Regions from separate parts of the Homo sapiens genome. Here region 1 is linked to region 2. Evidence: fine-mapped expression QTL. A gene starts in region 2. The other region holds a variant in brackets. All regions are shown on one strand. Distances are between the middles of the regions.

Region 1 (10,825 bases), 55 kb before region 2:
GCCACGAAGGTGGAAGGAGACCAGGGGAGTCCCAGTCAAGAGGCCGCCTGAGGAACGTTTCAAGGAGAGAGGGTGCTCAGCAGTAGTGGATGTTGGGGACACCTCATTGGAACGCCTGGCACATAGCGGACACTCAATATTTGTGAGCTGAATGAAAGAAAAACCCGGAGTAAGAACATGATACATTCAGGACAAGCAACATGAAAGAAATAGCAGTTGAATTTGGGAGTCAAGAGAATAACTGAGACCCTTTAAGTGGCATAAGGGAGAAAAAAAGGAAAAAATAACTGAGAGATTGTTGCATTTGTTCCAGAAAATGGCTGGGACCTGCCCCAAGGCCAACACTAAGCACTGATAATTGACCATTAGGAAACTCTGTCCCGACCTGCAGAGTGGAGGCTCCACTCCAGAGTGGAGGCTGGAGTGGTGTGGGGTTTAATGTGCAACCTTTTTTTTTTTTTTTGACAGAGTCTTGCTGTGTTGCCCAGGCTGGAGTGCAGTGGCGCGATCTTGGCTCACTGCAAACTCCACCCTCCCGGGTTCACGTCATTCTCCCGCCTCAGGCTCCCGAGTAGCTGGTACTACAGGTGCCCACCACCACGCCTGGCTAATTTTTTGTATTTTTAGTAGAGATGGGGTTTCACCATGTTAGCCAAGATGGTCTCATCTCCTGACCTCATGATCCGCCCACCTCGGCCTCCCAAAGTGCTGGGATTACAGGTGTGAGCCACCGCGCCTGGCCTAATGTGCAACCTTTGTGTAGAGGTTGCAACGTAAATGCAAATGTGAGCCTTTTCCATTCAATCTCAACATTTAGAGATCAGAAAAAATAATATATATAATACTGCTAAATGGCTCACATAATTCCATTACAAATCACTTCTTTCTTTCCACGTGTGTTTTTCTTTCCCCTTAGAAATAAAGAGGATGTAACAGGTTCTCTGGCACTGTGACCTTCCTTACAGCTTGCCTGTAAGTCCTTTATTTATTTATTTATTTATTTATTTATTTATTTATTTATTTTTGAGACGGAGTCTTGCTCTGTTGCCCAGGCTGGAGTGCAGTGGCCTGATCTCAGCTCACTGCAAGCTCCGCCTCCCGGGTTCATGCCATTCTCCTGCCTCAGCCTCCCAAGTAGCTGGGACTACAGGCACCTGCCACCATGCCCGGCTAAATTTTTGTACTTTTAGTAGAGATGGGGTTTCACCGTGTTAGCCAGGATGGTCTCGATCTCCTGACCTCGTGATCCGCCCGCCTCAGCCTCCCAAAGTGCTGGGATTACAGGCGTGAGCCACCGCCCCTGGCCTCTAGTCCTTTTTTAACAAGGTTATTTAAAAAGACTTTACTGGCCAGGCGCGATGGCTCACGCTTGTAGTCCCAACTACTCGGGAGGCTGAGGTGAGACGATTGCTTGAGCCCAGCAGTTTGAGGCTGCAGTGAGCTATGATTGTGCCACTGCACTCCAGCCTGAGCAACACAGCAAGACCCTGTCTCAAAATAACTAGCTAGCTAGCTAAGTAGCTAACTAACTTTACTGCTTCTTGAGATTCCTATCCCTGGACATTTAAAAATACATTATTTAAAAAAATGCATTTCCTATTTTTCTGGCTTAGAGAAAGATCATTTTCCTTCATATCTTTCTGGCTTTAAAAATATTACTCTGGGGTGGCTGCTGTGGCTCACACCTGTAATCCCAGCACTTTGGGAGGCCAAGGTGGGAGAATCACTTGAGTCCAGAAGTTGGAGACCAGTCTGGGCAACACAGTGAGACCGTCTCTATAAAAACAAACAATTACTCTGAATGGGAGAAGAGGCTGCTGAAGGCCACAGTGGGGAGCAGGGCGCAGACACCCCTGGCACAGTGCCGGCCAGTGGGCACCCCCAGCCTGACTCTATTTGCCAGAGGCTGAAGTCCAGAGGGGTTGAGGGGAGAGCACGGCAGGTCCTGGGGCCCCTCCCCCGCCTTGATCCTAGGGCGCCCCTGACCTTTGAGCCGGCTCGGGTTCCGGCTCTGGCGCGTGCACACTCGCCTCGCCGTTCGGGACCAGCCAGATCGCGGCGGCCTCGCGGGCGGTTTGGTCGGTGAGGTCTTGGCCGCGCGCGGCAATGCTGAGGCTGCTGGCGTCCGGGTGCGCCCGGGGCCCGGGGCCCGGCGTGGGCGCGCGTCCTGCCGCAGGGCTCTTTCATCCGGGGCGCCGCCAGAGCCGCCAGGCTTCCGACGCGCCCCGGAACCAGCCCCCCAGCCCCGAGTTCGTGGCCCGGCCGGTGGGCGTCTGCTCCATGATGCGCCTGCCGGTGCAGACCTCCCCCGAGGGGCTGGACGCTGCCTTCATCGGGGTGCCCCTGGATACTGGGACCTCCAACCGGCCTGGGGCGAGGTAAGGCCGGAAGGACGGGGGCCGGGTACACGTGGAGGGACTGCTTGCTGGCTGTCGGGCATGGAAAGCACCGAGACAGGCGCCCCTGCTGGCCCCGGGTCGAGTTGGAAGCTGGTGGCCGGCTCCAAAATGCCCCTTATGGTTTGAGATGGTTGATTTACCTGGACCCTCAATAAGCAAACCCCAGGGCTCAACATGGGCGTGGCCTCCCACATCTTAGTGTCATCATTGGTCAAGAAGGGATTTTGGCCGGCCCGGTGGCTCATGCCTGTAATCCCAGCACTTTGGGAGGCTGAGGCGGGCGGATCACGAGGTCAGGAGTTCGAGACCATCCTGACCAACATGGTGAAACTCTGTCTCTACAAAGGTACAAAAAAAAGAAAAAAAAAGCCGGGCATGGTGGCGCGGGCCTGTAATCCCAGCTACTCGGGAGGCTGAGGCAGGAGAATCGCTTGAACCCGGGAGACGGAGGTTGCAGTGAGCTGAGATTGCGCCACTGCGCTCCAGCCTGGGCAACAGAGTGAGACTCCGTCTCAAAAAAAGAAAAAAGAAGGGATTCTGGAGCCTGAACCTTCTCTGTGTCCCCATCCTGGGGCCTTGCTGGGATGGCTGCTGTGGATTCCTCCCCTCTCCTCTCCCCAGCTTACAGTGGCAGGTGACATTGCATTTGAGAGCAGAAACTGGCTGCCCCTTCCCCAAATCTGAAGATGTCACCTGACTCAAGAAATGCTCAAATGAAGGCAATTTTCCTAGGATCAAGTCGGAGGAAGCAAAATTCATCTTCCTAGTTATTGAACGTCAGCAATTTCTGATTCAGCTCAGCAACACTATATCTGACCGTACTGATCTGAATTATGAAAGCCAGCACTTATTAAATGTCTCCTAAGTGCAAGGTGCTTTGCATAGATTACCTCATTTAATTTTTACTACAGTGCAAGGTAAATATTTTACAAATTAGGAAACTGAGACTCAGGTAGATCATGAAATTCACTAATGCCATTTAGTACACTTATTTAGTCTCTTCGATACATAGCCTAGATCGGTGATTCTCAAGTGGGGCGGTTTTGCACTCCGGGGACATTTGGCAGTATCTGGAGGCGTTTTGGGTTGTTACACCTTGGAGGAAGGGTGCTACTGGCACCTAGTGAGTACAGGCCGGGATGCTGCTAAGCATTCCATTATGCAATGCCGCGACACGGAATCATCTGGCCCCAAATTGCTGAGGCTGAGAAGCCCTGGCCTAAGCAAAGCCTGAAATCTCTGCAGATGATGGCTGACAGGATGATTCTTCCTTCTGCAGATTCGGACCTCGCCGCATCCGGGAAGAATCAGTGATGCTTGGGACAGTCAATCCTAGCACGGGGGCCCTCCCCTTCCAGTCCCTCATGGTTGCAGACCTAGGCGATGTGAATGTCAATCTTTACAACCTTCAGGACAGCTGCCGGCGAATTCAAGAGGCCTATGAGAAAATTGTAGCAGCTGGCTGTATTCCTCTGACCTTGGGTAATGTCAGTCTGCAAGAGCCAGAGTAGTTCCCTGCACTCAGGGTTTACTTATCCTGTACTCAGGGGCTTGAGTACAGCTACTTCTCCCCTGCAAGCCACTGCAAATGTGCAGACAGTAGGAAAGAGAGCATTGTAATTCATTTATTTTAATCCCTGGGGAGAGAATATTTCACGTGTGTGTGTATGTGTGTGTGTGAGACAGTCTCACTCTGTTACCCAGACTGGAGTGCAGTGGTGCAATCTCGGCACATTGCAACCTCCACTTCCTGGGTTCAAGCAATTCTCCTGCCTCAGCCTCCCAAGTAGCTGGGATTACAGGCGCCCACCACCATGCCTGGCTAATTTTTGTATTTTTGGTAGAGTCGGGGTTTTGCCATGTTGGCCAGGCTGGTCTTGAACTCCTGACCTCAAGTGATCCGCCCACCTTGGCCTCCCAAAGTGCTGGGGTTACAGGCATGAGCCACCGCGCCTGGCCAAGATGATGTTTCTAATGACTTTATTTGCGAGGAGAACTGCAAAGAGGGTGTTTTTGTCCTGCTCAGGGTCTACATCAACCTATAGGGCAGCTTTCCCCTTATCCTCACCCCTGACCCACTCTCACTTTTTCTCTTGTTCACAAATACTTAAAATGACAGGGATCTTTTCCTAAATATCCAAATTCATTTTTGCCAAGTTAGAGAGCCTAGCCTGCATGGCATAGTGGGAGGAGTGTGGTTTCCCGATGGCATGGTTTGAAGTCTCAGCTGCACTTCTCCCTAGCAATGTTGCTGTATACCGTGCTTGATGCTTCACACCCTCACCTGTAAGATGGGAATGATCACAGTAACACCTACTCACTGCATGATGTGAGGGGCATATAATGAAAGTGCACATGAAATGCCCAGCATCAAGCATGGCATATCTTTTTTTTTTTTCTTTTTTTTTGAGACAGAATTTCACTCTTGTTGCCCAGGCTGGAGTGCAATGGCACGATCTCGGCTCACTGCAACCTCCGCCTCCCGGGTTCAAGCAATTCTGTCTCAGCCTCCTGAATAGCTGGGATTATAGGCGCCCGCCAGCATGCCCGGCTAATTTTTATATTTTTAGTAGAGACGGGGTTTCATCATATTGGTCAGGCTGGTCTCGAACTCCTGACCTCAGGTGATCTGCCCACCTCGGCCTTCCAAAGTGTTGGGATTACAGGCGTGAGCCATTGCGCCCGACCTATGCATGGCATATCTGAAGCTTCAATAAATGTTAACTGTTATTATTATCAGAAAGAATACTTTCCTAGGTCTGTGCTGTCCAGTAAGGTAGCCACTAGCCACATGTGGCTACTTAAATTCTTTTTTTTTTTGAGACAGAGTTTTGCTCTTGTTGTCCCGCTTGGCTCACGGCAACCTCCGCCTCCTGGGTCCAAGTGATTCTCCTGCCTCAGCCTCCTGAATAGCTGGGATTACAGGCGCGTGCCACCACGCCCAGCTAATTTGTTGCATTTTTAGTAGAAATAGGGTTTCAACATGTTGGCAAGGCTGGTCTCGAACTCCTGACCTCAGGTGATCCGCCGCCTCAGCTTCCCAAAATGCTGGGATTACAGGCGTGAGCCACCACGCCCGGCCTAAATTCAAATTAATTAAAATAAAATATTCAGTTTCTTAAGTCATATTAGCTACATGTATGTCACATGTGTGTCACATGTGGATAGTGGCTACCATATGGGCCAGTGCAGATAGAACATTGTCATCATCATAGAAGGTTCTATTGAACAGAGCTATTCTAGGCATTTTCCTAGAATACT[G/C]TGAAAAGGCAATTCCTAGAGTAGCTCTTAACTTGTCTAATTTCCTCTTTTATTTATTTATTTTTGAGACACGGTCTCACTCTGTCACCCAGGCTGGAGTGCAGTGGTGCCGACATGGCTCGCTGCAACCTTGCCCTCCCTGGGCTCAGGTGATCCTTCCACTCCAGCCTCCCGAGTAGCTGGGTCTACAGGCGTTTGTCACCATGCCCAGCTAATTTTTGTATTTTTTGCAAAGACGGGGTCTTAATGTATTACCCAGGTGGACCTTGAATTCCTGGGCTCAGGCGATCTGCTTGTCTTGGCCTCCCAAGGTGTGAGCCACTGCGCCTGGTCTATTTTTATTTTTATTTTTTAGAGACGTGGTCTTGCTGTGTTGCCCAGGCTGGTCTCAAACTTCTAGGCTCAAGCTATTTATTTATTTATTTTATTTTATTTTTTGAGATGGAGTTTCACCCTTGTTGCCTAGGCTGGAGTGCAGTGGCGCGATCTTGGCTCACCGCAACCTCCGCTTCCTGGGTTCAAGTGATTCTCCTGCCTCAGCCTCCAGAGTAGCCGGGATTACAGGCATGCGCTACCATGCCCGGCTAATTTTGTATTTTCAGTAGAGACGGGGTTTCTCCATGTTGGTCAGGCTGGTCTTGAACTCCCAACATCAGGTGACCTGCCCGCCTTGGCCTCCCAAACTGCTGGGATTACAGGCATGAGCCACCGTGCCCAGCAAGCTATTCATTTTTTTGAGATAGTGTCTTACTCTGTCGCCCAGGTTGGAGTGCAGTGGCACGATCACAGCTTACTGCAGCCTTGACCTCCCAGGCTCATTCAGCATCCTGCCATTCTATAAGATCTTACTGTAGCTGTGGTTATAACTCCCCCCAGGCTGAAAGGGTGAAAATTGAGTTAAGATTATTCAGCTGGGCATGGTGGCTCATGCCTGTAATCCTAGCACTTTGGGAGGCCAAGGCGAGTGGATCACTTGAGGTCAGGAGTTTGAGACCAGTCTGACCAACATGGTGAAACTCCGTCTCTACTAAAAATACAAAATTAGCCAGGTATGGTGGTACACACCTGTAATCCCAGCTACTCGGGAGGCTGAGGCAGGAGAATCGCTTGAACCTGGGAGGCAGAGGTTGCAGTGAGCCGAGATTGTGCCATTGAACTCCAGCCTGGACAACAGAGCAAAACTACATCTCAAAAAAAAAAAAAAAAAAAAAAGATTATTCTATGTAATCCTCCAATTCACTTTCCAGATGTTTTCTTCTTCCTCTTTGCAGGTGGAGATCACACAATCACATATCCCATATTGCAAGCGATGGCAAAAAAGTAAGTCTCAAATGGCTTGGGCCCAGCAAGATTTCAAAAGCCAGAAGCTAGGGAATGAGTTATTTGCTGTTTGGTGGCATTAGGTGACTGCTGCTGGCTCAGGTTATGAGCTGCTTCTGGGGATCAAAATTAAGGTTGAGCTCCAGGTGTCTCTGTCAGTCAGCAGCTAGAAGCCAAGACAATTTATTATTAACAGTTCTGGCCACCCTCCCTTGCCCTAGATCTCTCCTGGTATGTGTGCTCAGCATTTTCAACTTGCTTCTGTTTTTGGAAGATGAGCCTCTAGTGAAATACACAACCTCAGTTAACTTCAGTTTCTGTTTTGCTTCAATGGCCAAAAACAAACACTGACAGGCACAATGGTGGACCTTGCTGAGAGGCCCTTGTTTCCTCCTGAAAGGGCACCTTTCTCAATCAAAAGACTGATTTGCCAGTAGTGGAAGTCTACCCAGGATTGGCCGACTTTGGCTAATTTAGTTTGAGAAAGAGACAGAAGGACCCGGGTGGAGGGTGGCAGCTCCAGAATGTGTCTGTGGAAGCACATGTGGGTGGCATTCTGGTTGGAGGTGGGAGGGTGCAGGTCTTTGCTCAAAGCTGCATTTATTCCTCACGGATTTGGATCAGATGTTTATTTTGGGTGGCTGGCAGGGGTTGATGGAGGTTATGGAGAGAGCTGGATTAAAGCTTCCTCTTCCTCGGTTGGAGAAAGGGTGTGTCTTGGTTTAGTTAAGCCTTCAGCCAAGCTCCCCTGTGCCACCACCCTTGATTCTCATCCTGTCTCTAAGTGAAGCAAATTCTGGGTGATAGGTGTGGGTGGCAGCCAAAACATGTCTATTTCCTGCCTGACTTCTGTGAGTTTATTGTTCCTCTGAGATGCAAAGTGATCTCAAGAAGACAGGAACCAGTTGCAAGGCAGAAAACGGATGCCAGGTCTCCCCTTTTTGGCTGTGAATTGTCACCAAGTTTTGGTGGCCCGAAGGGTGGCTGTGCTAGGGCCCCACAGGGAGGGTTGGCCTCTGAGCTGCCCTGTTGTCATCAGGCATGGCCCAGTGGGGCTGCTGCACGTGGATGCGCACACGGACACGACCGACAAGGCCCTAGGAGAGAAGCTCTACCACGGGGCGCCCTTCCGCCGGTGTGTGGATGAGGGTCTCCTGGACTGTAAGCGTGTGGTGCAGATTGGCATCCGGGGCTCTTCCACGACCTTGGATCCCTACAGATACAACCGGAGCCAGGTGACAGACCGAATGCCCCCCACCCTTGCCCCTCAAAATGTCTTCCTCTCCGTTGCCTCACCAGTGGCAGCCAGGGATTGAGCGGGGGCTTTACTAATCAAGTCTGAAGCAGGGATACAAGGCTGAGTTTGCATCATCAGGGGCATAAGGAGCATAGGAGTGAGGAAGTTGGTTTATGGGCCATGGGAAGTCTATCGCTGGGCGGGGGAGACAAGCAGAAATCGACCAACCCCTCGGACGGTGCTGGCTTAGAAGAGGGGAGGAGGCCGGGCACAGTGGCTCACACCTGTAATCCCAGCACTTTGGGAGGCTAAGGTGGGTGGATCACCTGAGGTCAGGAGTTCGAGACCAGCCTGGCCAACATGGTGAAACCCCGTCTCTCCTAAAAATACAAAAATTAGCCAGGTGTGGCGGTGCGCACCTGTAATCCCAGCTACTCGGGAGACTGAGGCAGGAGAATTGCTTGAACGTGGGAGGTGGAGGTTGCAGTGAGCTGAGATCGCGCCACTGCACTCTAGCCTAGGTGACAAAGTGAGACTCCATCTCAAAAGAAAAAAAAAAGAGGGGAGGAAGTCCGGACCCAAGATGAGTTGCCACCTTCTTAGTTCTGGTCCTCGTACCCTCTAGGCAGAATGGCTCTCAGATAGACGTGTATGACAAGACCCCAATGGAACAGACCCAAATCCCTTGCTTTTAGAGCGTGCCAAGGCCAGTCTTCTGGACAGAGCAATTCAAAAGGTGCTAGCGTGAGCTGCTGTTTCCCACTCTTGCTTTAGCAAAGCTTCTCTCTGATTCCAACTCCATCAGTCAGCTTTGACCCTGCTTCCTTACCACTCATTGTCCCTCCCTTCCTCACCTGTAAAATAGGATAGTTCCCTCTTCATGGAGATGGAGGGTCAAGTGTCATGTGCACACAGAGCTGAGCATGGGGCTGGCAAACAGGAAATGCCCTGTAAATGCTGCCAGACAGAAACCTCAGTCCCTGTCTCTGCAGGGCTTCCGGGTAGTCCTGGCTGAAGACTGCTGGATGAAGTCGCTGGTTCCTCTGATGGGGGAAGTCAGGCAGCAGATGGGAGGCAAACCCATTTATATCAGCTTTGATATTGACGCTCTGGATCCTGCCTATGCGCCAGGGACAGGGACACCTGAAATTGCTGGTCTCACTCCTAGTCAGGTAAGGAGATTCCACCAGTGAAGATCCTGGGGGTGGAGACACTTAACACCCATTTTCCTGGGACTTGAAGCGAATCTTTAGGAATCAGGATAGGATTTTTGTTTGTTTGTTTGAGACGGAGTCTCACTCTGTCGCCCAGGCTGGAGTGCAGTGGTGCGATCTCGGCTCACTGCAACCTCCGCCTCCCAGGTTCAAGCGATTCTCCTGCCTCAGCCTCCTGAGTAGCTGAGATTACAGGCACATGCCACTACGCCCGGCTAATTTTTGTATTTTTAGTAGAGATGGGGTTTCACCATGTTGGTCAGGCTGGTCTTGAACTCCTGATCTCGTGATCCACTCACCTCGGCTTCCCAAAGTGCTGGGATTACGGGTGTCAGCCACCGCGCCTGGCTGCCAAGGTAGGATTTTAAGAGCAGAGCACCTAGGCCTTTTCTGTTCTCTGGGCTGAGGATAAGTTTGAATACCCTCTTACTGAAGGGTGATTGATTTTGGCAAGGGCCTTCATTTCCTATCTGGGATATAATAGTCCCTTATTTTGTCCTTTATTTGCTCTTCCTGCCTTCAGTTCATCTGTCATGAAAACAACAGTTCATAGGAACAACATTATAGTATCCTCTCTTAAGAACACTAAACTTGGCCGGGCACGGTGGCTCACGTCTATAATCCCAGCACTTTGGGAGGCTGAGGTGGGTGGATCACGAGGTCAGGAGATCGAGACCATCTTGGCTAACACGGTGAAACTCCGTCTCTACTAAAAATACAAAAAAATTAGCCGGGCGCGGTGGCGGGTGCCTGTAATCTCAGCTACTCAGGAGGCTGAGGCAGGAGAATGGCATGAACCCGGGAGGCAGAGCTTGCAGTGAGCCGAGATAGAACCACTGCAGTCTGGCCTGGGCGAAAGAGTGAAACTCCATCTCAAAAAAAAAAAAAAAAAAAAAAAAAAAGAACACTAAACTTGGCCAGGTGTCGTGGCTCACGCCTGGAATCCCAGCACTCTGGGAGGCCGAGGCGGGTGGATCACAAGGTCAGGAGTTCGAGACCAGCCTAGCCAAGATGGTGAAACCCTGTCTCTACTAAAAGTACAAAAATCAGCCCGGCACGGTGGCAGGCGTCTGTAATCCCAGCTACTTGGGAGGCTGAGGCAGGAGAATTGCTTGAACCCTGGAGGCGGAGGTTGCAGTGAGCTGAGATCGTGCCACTGTACTCCAGCCTGGGCAACAGAGCAAGACTCCACCTCAAAAAAAAAACCAACCAACCAACCAAACAAAAACACTAAACTTGGCCGGGCGCAGTGGCTCACACCTGTAATCCCAGCACTTTGGGAGGCCAAGGCATCAGGCGGGTGGTTCACCTGAGGTAGGGAGTTTGAGACCAGCCTAACATGGAGAAACCCCATTTCTACTAAAAATACAAAATTAGCCGGGCATGGTGGCGCA
Region 2 (10,825 bases):
GGGAAAAAGTAAAGTCAAATGGTTTCACCAAGCAAAGTAAAATTCTTAAGCAGTCTAAGAAACACTTAGTAAAATGTATCAGAGGAAGGCTCCAGATCCAACTCAACAAGTAACCACTTCCCCCTGCTATAGCTCATTCTGAAAAGTCAAACTGGGAAACACTGCTATTTTCAGTGTATATCAAGCCATTAGTAAGCAAAACTTAAACTATTCCAAGTGACAAAGCATTGTCATAGCCAAAACCGCAGAAAATAATAGTAGAGCAAAATTAAAAACGTAAAGTAAAATTTTAGACTTTTACTGGATGACACACTCAATACACTTCTATGGTGATGAATTATTCCTAGAGAGAATCTAATTAAAAAAGAGAAGAATATGACTCATTTAATTAATATCATAACACCCTTTTCAGCTCTGGAAGACAGAAAAGTCAAAGCTATACATTTTAATAGGTCCCACATACTCAAGCTGTCACTTGTGTTCTTAAAATATTGTCAAAGGCTATGCCTTGTCCAAAAGAATGTTGTTACCTTATGAATTTGCTGCAGATTTATATATCCTGCTTTAAACATAAAGAGGCAAGAGTCTGAAATGATGTAGAACATAACCTTGGTATAAAGAGTCCCTGGAAGGAGGTCATGTATAATTAGAGATTGCTTCTTTGGCATCCAATTCTGGATTTCTCATGGAATATGGTCTAAAACATTTATTTTAAAAATATATTTTCAATGATCTTTACCTTTATTTCAACCAGTTTAATGCTAAAATATACCTGTTCACTGAAGCAGAACAGTGTCAGGCGCAGTCACGCATGCAGTCTGTACCATGCATCACCTCAATGTGGCAGTTTTGCTTCTGGATAACTTCCTACTCGCATTCAGCTCCTCCCCAGCCAACCATTAGCCCACTCACCCTTACTCATGCCTAGATGTGTAAATGATTAAAAAACAATAAAGCAATGGACTACTGATGCAGAGGGTCAAACTACGGAACCCAGAGGTACCACAGATTTACCAACTCTAAGCCTCCATCTTCTCATCTATAAAACAGAGACACTGGCCGAGCATGGTAGCTCACGTCTGTAATCCCAGCACTTTGGGAGGCCGAGGTGGACGGATCACTTGAGGTCAGGAGTCTGAGACCAGCCTGGCCAATATGGCAAAACCCCGTCTCTACTAGAAATACAACAATTAGCTGGGTGTGGTGGTGCACGCCTGTAGTCCCAGCTACTTGGGAGGCTGAGTCAGGAGAATCCCTTGAACCCAGGAAGCGGAGGTTACAGTGAGCCAAGATTGTGCCACTGCATTCCAGCCTGCGTGACAGAGCGAGACTCCGTCTCAAAAAAAAAAGAGATACTGATATCCTCCTTCATAGGCTCATTATAAGGTTTAAATGAGATAAAAAGTATAGAACCAGGAGATTAGCATGTAGTAGGTGCTCAGTGATGGTACCTGTCCCAAACTTTCTTCCATTCCTCATGGTTGGTACAGCCAGCTTGGAGTCACCTCTGTCCTTTCCTCCTTCTGCTGCTCCCCCTCCATCTATATAATCCAACACTTCTGCTTCTTTGGCATGGCCAAGGCATTGGTGGAAGAAACTGATGATATTTGTCCAAAGTTTTAGATTTATTGCTACCCTGCTAATTGCTATCCTGATAACTACAGGCAAAATTACAATTTTCTGTAAGTTTTTTTTTTTGAGACGGGTCTCACTCTGTTGCCCAGGCTGGAGTGCAGTGGTGTGATTATAGCTCACTTCAGCCTCAAACTTCTGGGCTTTTTTTTTTTTTCCATAGTGATGAGGTGTCACTATGTTGCCCAGGCTGGTCTCAAACTCCTGGGCTCAAACGATCCTCCCACCTCAGCCTCCCAAAGTGCTGGGATTACAAACATGAGCCACCATGCCAGGCCAATTTTTTTTTTTGAGTAATATATAGTCAGCCCTCTATATCTGTTGGTTTCACATCCATGGATTCCACCAACCAAAATATAATATTTTCTATTTTGAAATATTCAAAAATATTTTTAAAAAATTGCATTGTACTGAACATGTACAGACTTTTTTCTTGTCATTATTCCTTAAACAATAACAGTATAACAACCATTTGCACAGCAGTTACATTGTATTAGGTATTATAAGTAAGCTAGAGATGATTTAAAGTATATGAGAGGACGTGCATAGATTATATGCAAATACTATGCTATTTTATATAGGGACTTGAGCATCCAATGACTTTGGTATTTCTGGGGATCCTGGAACCAAGACCTCATGGATATCAAGAGACAACTATCCTTGGTTTCTGAATTTTTTTTTTTGGAGGCAAAAGGCTATTACTCTTAACTTTTTTTCAAAGTGTAGAAATTAATAATTTAGAGAATAGGGTTGTATAGTGTTCCTGTTTAGCAATTACACTCATAAAGTTACTTTATGAATAATGTATCATGGGAAGGGTAGCATATCCATTATTGACTATATATACATTTTTTTAAAATTAAAACTTGTTACTTTAACATTAAATATGCTAACAGTATCTAAGGCAATTCTTTAAGCCAAAGTATTCCTAAAAGGGAGTTTCAGAGTAAACATAGGCTTTGGATCTTATCGCTAACAATTATAGAACATGAACATTAGCTCTCCTGCGTAAAATATTTTAGACAGATATATATATTGAACATAGAAACAGAGACAAATAAAAGCTAGTCATAATTTAGACTTCATCCCTGCTAAGACTGTTTAGCTTATGTTAAACCTCTATTTCTTTGTTTCACCTACCATTCCCGGGCGAGCTTCTTATAAGCCTTTTTAATATCAGCCTGACTGGCTGTTCGGCTGACCCCTAGGACTCTGTATGGGTCAAAATCCAACGCAGACAGAATTTGCAGGATCAGAACCAGAACTATCAAGAACTGCCAGGAAATGCTCAACTTTCTCACTTCCATTTCTCTTCCTTTCCAGAGCTGAAATGATTGAAGAGGCAATGAGTTTCAGTGGCAGAAACCTGGACAGTCTTGCTTTTTAGGTAAAGGTATAAGATATATAGATGAAAAACAAAACCAACAAAAGGTATTTTGCAGGAAAAGTGTCAAGCTGTTGAACTGTATCTTAAAATAAAAATCTCGCTACTGCTTTTGAATATCACAAATGAGAACTATTACAGATGAAAAGATGAGTAATAAGAATAGCAACTCTCCAGAACACTTTGACTAGAAAAGCTTTAGAAATGAATGAAAATGAATGGGATGCAGAAATAATACATAAATGAGAGAAAACCTAAATAGGATAATCAGGACGACTACCTCTCAAATACATGATTTCATTTATTCTGATAAGAATAAATAAAATAAATGGTTTAAGAATACTTCATTGAGTACATGTTAAACAAACTCATGAAACTGTAAGATTTACCATGTACAAAACTACAAAATGAGATAGTTGTGGCATTCTTGGGCATTAAATAAGTACAAACATGGACGTGAAACACTCTCAAAAAACTGTGTAGTTAAGACGCAGTATGCCTCAATTCTATTCTTTCTCACCACACCATTCAAACAAGAAAATGAGAAGCTGCTCTTTAATCATTAGTAATATGGTGTTTTTTTGTTTTTTTTTTTTGAGACGGAGTTTCACTCGTTGCCCAGGCTGGAGTGCAATGATGGGATCTCAGCTCACTGCAACCTCCCCCTCCCAGGTTCAAGCAAGTCTCCTGTCTCAGCCTCCCCAGTAGCTGGGATTACAGGCATGCGCCACCCTGCCTAGCTAATTTTTTGTATTTTTAGTAGAGACAGGGTTTCACCATGTTGGCCAGGCTGGTTTTGAACTCCTGACCTCAGGTGATCCACCCGCCTCGGCCTCCCAAAGTGTTGGGATTACAGGCGTGAGCCATCGCGCCGGCCAATATGGTCATTATTAATGGAAACCTCAGATGAGAAAAAGCGGCAAGAAAAAATTTAGTTTTACATGTGAAGAAGAATTAACGGCAAAGACCAAATAGCAGGCGTGGTCTTTAAAAGTTTCAAGCTCCATCTCTGGTGAGTACAGTGACTTAATTCATTGTGAATTTTGGAAATAATCCTGGCTGGTTAATGAACAGGGTAGTGCTGGAACTGCAGATATTTATACTCCACAATTATGATTGCTGTTATACCCTACAATGTTTTTTTTCAAGGAACACATTTATCTTGATTTCTCACAAGTTAATACAGTTTTAAGGTTCAAGTGTCTTCTGTGACACCTTACTGAAGAAGGGCAAAGCTATAACAGTGGTGGATTTCCGTAAGTGCAAGTTTAATGCCGCCTGGGAGTCCTCACAAAATTGACTAATCTGATGACCAACGTTTAAAATTGCATACGTGCTGAATAAAATCCTAAAACAAACCAGTTTCTTCTTTGTTAAGGCAACCTATTATATCCTAGAAAACACGTGAAGGCAATGTAGCTACTGGTTAAGCATATGGGTTGAAGACTAGGATCTATTCTCCACTACTTTATTACCTTGGGCAAATTATTTAAACTTACTAAGCATCAGCGTCCTTATTCATAAAATGGGAATGAATACTACCACCTTGAAGGATCATCATGTGGGGACTAAATGCATGTAAAGGGTTTACTGAGCCCAGAGTCAACAGTCAACAAATGGTCGTTAGTGCTATTATTTCTACCATGCAGTACGATCGCTGCCTTATTTAACCATGTCAGTTCCTTCCAGCTAGAGGGCCGAAGTGGCGGTGGTCTGGGAAGTTCTTTAGCTGACATGCGAGATAGACGGCGCCGACCTCGGAGCAGCAAACACCTGCCCAACAGGTAGGCTGCCAGCTCTCTGGGCAGCATATCCAGGACCAGGAAGAAGCTCCCAGAGACAAGCTCCAGGTCTAAGCCCCGCCTCGCGCTCCTGCCGGAGGTCGCAACCCTGCAGGAGACAGCCCCCTCCCCCGCCGCCCTCCGAGAGCCCAGGGCCCGGCCCTGTTGGCTCCCGGCTCCCCCCGGGGCCAGCAGTGACTGGAAACGAGAAGGAACTGAGGGGAAATCCCTGAGTCGGCCTGGCCCCGCCGCGTCCGCGGTTCCGCGCGTCACGCCGGGAAGGAGTTACCGGGAAAGTACACCGGCCCAACCGGCTGCAGCTCCGTGCTCCAGTTAGTTCGCCGGGCCGGGAGCTTCCCGTCCACACCAGCGCTCGCCTGGGCCTGGGGAGGGGAAAGAGGAGGGGACAAGCCCGAGGGGAGTCACGTGACGCTTAAAGGTCTATCGCACTGAAGGCGAGGACCGAACAGGTCGAGGGCGTCTACTGGGCGAATCTATTTTGACCCTTGCCACTCGCCGTCTAGGCGTGGACCTGGGGTGGTTGCTATAGAAACGAGGCGCGCTCTTTGGTTGCAGCCAAAAGGCTGATCGTGACCAAAGAGGCCAAAACGTGCCTCCTAGCGAGGCGAAGTCGCTATGCATGATGGGATACCAGAAGGACCTCCTCGATCCAGGAAGGTGTTTCCGCTCCTACCGGGAGATGGCCCTCGTCTAGCAACAGTTGCTAGGATGGGGACGCACTCTCTGGTCCCTATTCTCTTTAACCCTATTCGTAGAACCTTAGAGCGTCAGATTGGAAGTGACCTTAGGGATTCTTTAACTCTCCAACTCCTGCAATATTGATAGGGAGACCGAGGTCCAGAGAGGGGCAGAGATTTGCCCAAGGCCTAGAATCCAGCATTCCTTTTATTTTTGTTTACTTATCTTTTTTTTTTTTGAGAGAATCCAGGACTTTTAATCCCGTTTACCGAAAACCGAGCTCCACCCAAGAATGTACCAGTCTGTGCCTTAAGCACGGGGAAAGGGCGGTGGGGGTGGAGAGAGGGATAAGGCACAGGTAAGTGAAGGAAACTTTCTTTGAGCCAATGAGATAGATCCCTTGCGGATATAAAGAGCTTTCATATCTCCCTGTCTTGTTTTTATTTTTTTCTCTTTGCATTTATCACTATCTAACATAGTATGTCTTATTTATTGATATAGTTTATCACCTGATCCTTCCACTGGAATGTAAACTCTAAAAGCAGGGATTTTGTTTTGTTCACCTTCATGTTCTTAGTGTTTGACTACAGGCTCAATAAATATTCGTAGAAGTGAACGAATGGGGCTGAGGTTTTGGTGCTCAAGAGATTATATTCTAAGGTGGATTCTTAAGAGTGTGGCTTACAGAGTCAGGTTCGGGTTTCAATCCTGCCTGCCTCGGCCACTTAGTACCCAAGTGACCTTAAACATTCGTTTCCCTGAACCCTAGGGTCTACATCTGTAAAACCGGCGGGGGGTGGGAATACTTTCCTGGCAGGATTGTAGTTAAGGATAAGTGAAATAAGCATGAAAAGTGGCTAGCACGATGCCTGGGACTTAGCAAATGCTCAGTAAACAGAAACGATTATTTTTGAAATGTGAAAATGAACCGTTCAGAACGATGGGAGTTTACAGGACTAGATTTCTGCCGTTTTTTTTTTTTTCTGTGTGGGAGGTGTTAGGGTGGGAGGGAGGGAAGAGGGAATGGAAGACTGTGTAAGGTGGGCTTGGTTGGATCAGACACTCGAGTTTGGAACAGTCAACTGCGATCTGGGCACAAGGGCGGTGAGGGGAGCTTATGGTTTTACTTGGGGTGGAGGAGGGGGCTAAGGGGAAGCCATGCCCCGGAGGAGGTTGAATGGGCGGGACAGATCACGGCTCCACTCATGGTTTCCCTCTTGCTGGAAGTGTGACGACTCCCTCCGGATCTCTGTAAAAGCGGGGCTATAGTGAATTCTGGCGAAGGGCCCGCGGTGGACCAGGAACTGGTGCCAGAATTGCAAAAGGGCACCTGCGCCCGGAGTGGGGAGGTGATGCGGGGGCGGGGCGGGGCCCTGGGGGCGGGGCGAGTCGCGGAGGTGCCGCCTTGGGGCGGGGCGGTGACAGAAGGATGGATCCTGGGGGTGAGGATTGACTTTGGGGGCGGGGCGAGAGTGCGAACTGGAGTCTGAGGCTGAGCGGTGACGCAAGGACGATTCTGAGGGTGGAGCGAGGGGAGGGGATTGGCTCTTGGAGGCGGGGCGGTGGCACGAGGCTAGCCCTTGGGGGCGGGGCGGTGGCGCAAGATTGACCTTGGGGGCGGGGTGGGGGCGTGGGTTGAATCCTGGGGGCGGGGCGGTGGCGCGGAATGGATTCTGGGGTCGGCGCGAGGCGCTGAGGTGCGTCCTGAGGGCGGGGCGATGACGCAGAGCGAATCCTGGGGGCGGGGCGAGACCTTCTAGATGCGTCCCGGGGAGTGGGCGGTGACGCGGTGGCAGGTTCTGGGGACAGGCGGTGACCCCAGAATTGACCCTGGGGACAGGGCGAGGCGCGGAGGCGTCCTGAAGGCGAGGCGGTGACGCAAGAGCGAATCCTTGGGGCGGGGCGAGGCGTTGGAGATGCGTCCTGCGGGCGGGACGGTAACGCGGGGGCGGGGCGGTGACGTGAGGTCAGTGCGGGGATACGGGGCGGGTTCTGGGGCGGGGACGCAGTGGTGGATTCTGGAGCGGGGCGGTGACGTGGGGCGGGTTCTGGGGCGGGGCGGTGACGCGGAGCGTGTTCTGGGGCGGCGCGGTGATGGGAGGCTTGGCCCTGGGGGCGGGGCGAGGCGCAGAGGTGCGTCCTGAGGGCGGGGCGGTGACGCAAGAGCGACTCCTGGGGGCGGGGCGAGGCCTTGGAGATGCGTCCGGAGGCGGTGGGGAGCGAAGACTGACCCGGGGCCGTGACGCGGGGGCAGGCCCTGGGGCGGGGGCGGGTCCTGGGGACTGGGGCGGGCGGCCGAGGCCCGGAAGCGGACTGAGGCGGCCTGGAGTCTTAGTTGGCTACTCGCCATGGACGAAGCGGATCGGCGGCTCCTGCGGCGGTGCCGGCTGCGGCTGGTGGAAGAGCTGCAGGTGGACCAGCTCTGGGACGCCCTGCTGAGCCGCGAGCTGTTCAGGCCCCATATGATCGAGGACATCCAGGTGCGCCCCCGGCCCCCTGTCCCCGCGCTGCACGGCCGGGTCCCCACGCCCCTCGAGGAGGCGTTGTGCGGGAGCCTAGCCTTCCCTGTGGCTTCAAACCCCTCAGCGGAGCCAAAGAATCCCAAACACCTCTTAGTCGGGTGTTCGCTAAAGCGATTCCATGCCATACTCAGTCAGCGTACACTGTTAGTGCTTGTGTTTCTTGTGTAAAGGAAAAATGTGAGACACATCTTGAGAACTTTGAATAAGAAACAATTCATGAATTGGAGAACATCAGACTGAAAGAGCTTTAGTGTTGCAATGACAAAACGTCAGAGGCAAGTATTTATTGGGAAAATGTGGAAGCAAAATAAAGAAATTATTTGATTGGTTTGCAGTTACAAAATTGCCTTTTTTTTTTAAGGTCTGTTAATTGACTGCTTTTGGCTGGTCTTAAGTTTTATTTCTCTCTAACATAAGCATTTATCAGATATGACCCAAGTTAAATTTTGCTTATGTTTGCAGTTTAAGCAAGATTTAGGTCACTTAGGATACCTGATTGGTTTTGTCTGCTCAGGAATTCTTCATGGTTGGTCTCCATTTTAATTTACGTTAATACTTGCGAGGAAGGAGGCGTGTGCGTTTTTACTTTTCTAGCATAGAGGTTTCGGGAACCCACTTTGGCATCAGGCTGCCTGGCAGCGTGTTCTTGGGCCAGTCACTTACCCTCTTTGAGCCACAGTTTCTGGGCTGTGAAATGGGAATAAGAATAATACTGTCATAAGGACTAAATGAAATAACGGATGTGAAACTGTAGTGCTAGGCACAGAGCGGGGGATCAGCGTACCCTGCCCTCTTTGGCCAGCCCCTTCTGTGTTCAGTTTATGTTTTGTTAAGAGGTTTTGGAAATGAGGGGACCTGATGCAGAATGGAGAATAATGAAGTCAAACATTTGAGGTTTTGTTTAAAAGCACTTTCCCATCTTTGTCTCATTTGACCCTCATCACAGGCCTGTGAGGATGCAGGAGATATTTCCTACCATGAGGTGCAGTAGGTGTGAGTGGCTGGCTGGATATCCCTGGCCAGTGCCCTGGCCCAGGGAAAGAGTCTTTAAATAATTGAGTATCATATGAGTAATTATTCATTAATAATAAAATAAGTTTTGTGCCTTCTGTGTGGCCCCTACTGGGGAACAGTAATGGTTTGAGGCCACAGTCCTTGCCTTCAGGAATGTTCACGGGGATCACAAACTCAAATGCCCATGGAGGACCAATGGATGGGCGTCATAGTGGATAGCCTTTGCACTGCCCTCCGTCTCCAGCTGAGTATGGCCATATCAACAAATGGCCCAGTATTGCCACATCTTACACTTATTTTGAGGCAGGGTCTCACTCTTGCCCAGCCTGGAGTGCAGGGATGAGATCATGGCTCACTGCGACCTTGACCTCCTGGGCTTAAGTGGTCTTCCTGCCTCAGCCTTTAGAGCAGCTGGGACTTTAGGCACATGCCACCATGCCTGGCTAATTAAAAAAAATTTTTTTTTTGTACAGATAGGAGTCTTGCTATGTTGCCTAGATGAGTCTCAAACTCTTGGCCTCAAGTGATTCTCCTGCCTCAGTGTTGGGATTACAGGTGTGAGCCACTGTACCCGGCCCAGCTTTCACATCTTAAAAAAGAAGCTGAAAATCTTGATTCCTCTGTCAAATTCCCTGGCTTAAAATGTTAGCAACAAATTCAGAAATTTTTTAAGAACCTTGTGGGAACCACAGGTTGCCATTTTGCCATTCAGTATGGCTGAAAAACAGGCAGGTTTTGGAACCAGTTGGATCTGGGCTCTCATCCTGGCCTTGTTACATATTAGCAAGTTGTAAAAAACCACAACCAATGAGCCAAACAAACAGAAAAACCCTATGACTCAGTTTCCCTGAAATTTTTTACCCTAAAAAGTTGGGAAGTTCTAATTTAACTCTATAAAGTTATTGAGGGAGAAAAAGATGAAACAATGCATTTAACACAGTGTTGACCTCCTGGAGTGTTCAGCAAATGTGGAGAGAAACCTAAACACCACCATCTATTTGCATGTAGCCAACTGTTCTGCTAGTGAGACTTACCTTCTCAGTGGCACTGTAGGTCTGTGCTGTTCCCAACAGTAGCCATTAGCCACATGTCGTTAAAGGTAAATTTGAAGTAATTAAAATTAAATAAAACTAAAAATTGGTAGGGTCAAGCCTTACAGGGCCTGTGGGTTTTTCTCCTCGTGTGCGGAGATGAGAGATCGTAGAAATAAAGACACAGGAGAAAGAGATAGAAAAAAAGACAGCTGGGCCCGGGGGACCACTACCACCTAGACGTGGAGACAGGGTAGTGGCCCCGAATGCCTGGCTGCGCTGTTATTGGATATAAGGCAAGGGGACAGGGTAAGGAGGGTGAATCTTCTAAGTGATTGATAAGGTGAAGCAAGTCACGTGATCATAGGACAGGGGGCCCTTCCCTTTTAGGTAGCTGAAGCAGAGAGAGAAGGCAGCATATGTCAGCGTTTTCTTCTATGCACTTATAAGAAAGATCAAAGACTTTAAGACTTTCACTATTTCTTCTACCGCTATCTATGAACTTCAAACAGGAACCAGGAGTACGGGAGGAACATGAAAGTGGGCAAGGAGCGTGACCATGGAAGCACAGCACCACAGGGAGGGGTTTAGGTCTCCGGATGACTGCGGGCAGGCATGGATAATATCCAGCCTCCCACAAGAAGCTGGTGGAGCAGAGTGCTCCCTGACGCCTCCAAGGAAAGGAGACTCCCTTTCTTTTTTTTTTTTTTTTGAGGTGGTGTCCCACTTTTTCGCCCAGGCTGGAGTGCAATGGTACGATCT

Which allele goes with the higher level. Positions count from the first base shown, and alleles are read on the strand shown. Sizes are in standard deviations (SD) of each study's normalised expression.
With allele C in place of G in region 1, the expression in atrial appendage of the gene that starts at base 5,197 in region 2 is higher (small effect, 0.20 SD a copy in GTEx).

What was found.
Region 1: its variant is fine-mapped to the expression of DNAJC16 in atrial appendage (GTEx, PIP 0.94).

What each region holds. Positions count from the first base shown.
Region 1 is chr1:15,576,249-15,587,073 of GRCh38, reverse strand. AGMAT (agmatinase (putative)) reads left to right here and starts at 2,023. Exons shown (of 7, transcript NM_024758.5): 1 at 2,023-2,378; 2 at 3,679-3,881; 3 at 6,932-6,980; 4 at 8,020-8,215; 5 at 9,210-9,389. The coding sequence starts at 2,107. RefSeq lists a silencer at 2,041-2,370 and an enhancer at 2,481-2,530. The variant G/C (reference allele first, on the strand shown) is at 5,661.
Region 2 is chr1:15,521,220-15,532,044 of GRCh38, reverse strand. DNAJC16 (DnaJ heat shock protein family (Hsp40) member C16) reads right to left here and starts at 5,197. Exons shown (of 15, transcript NM_015291.4): 1 at 5,087-5,197; 2 at 2,773-2,957. The coding sequence starts at 2,939. CASP9 (caspase 9) reads left to right here and starts at 7,830. Exons shown (of 9, transcript NM_001229.5): 1 at 7,830-7,976. The coding sequence starts at 7,845. RefSeq lists silencers at 4,733-4,832, 4,757-5,051, 5,173-5,312, 6,751-7,190, 7,471-7,860 and enhancers at 5,423-5,522, 5,038-5,541.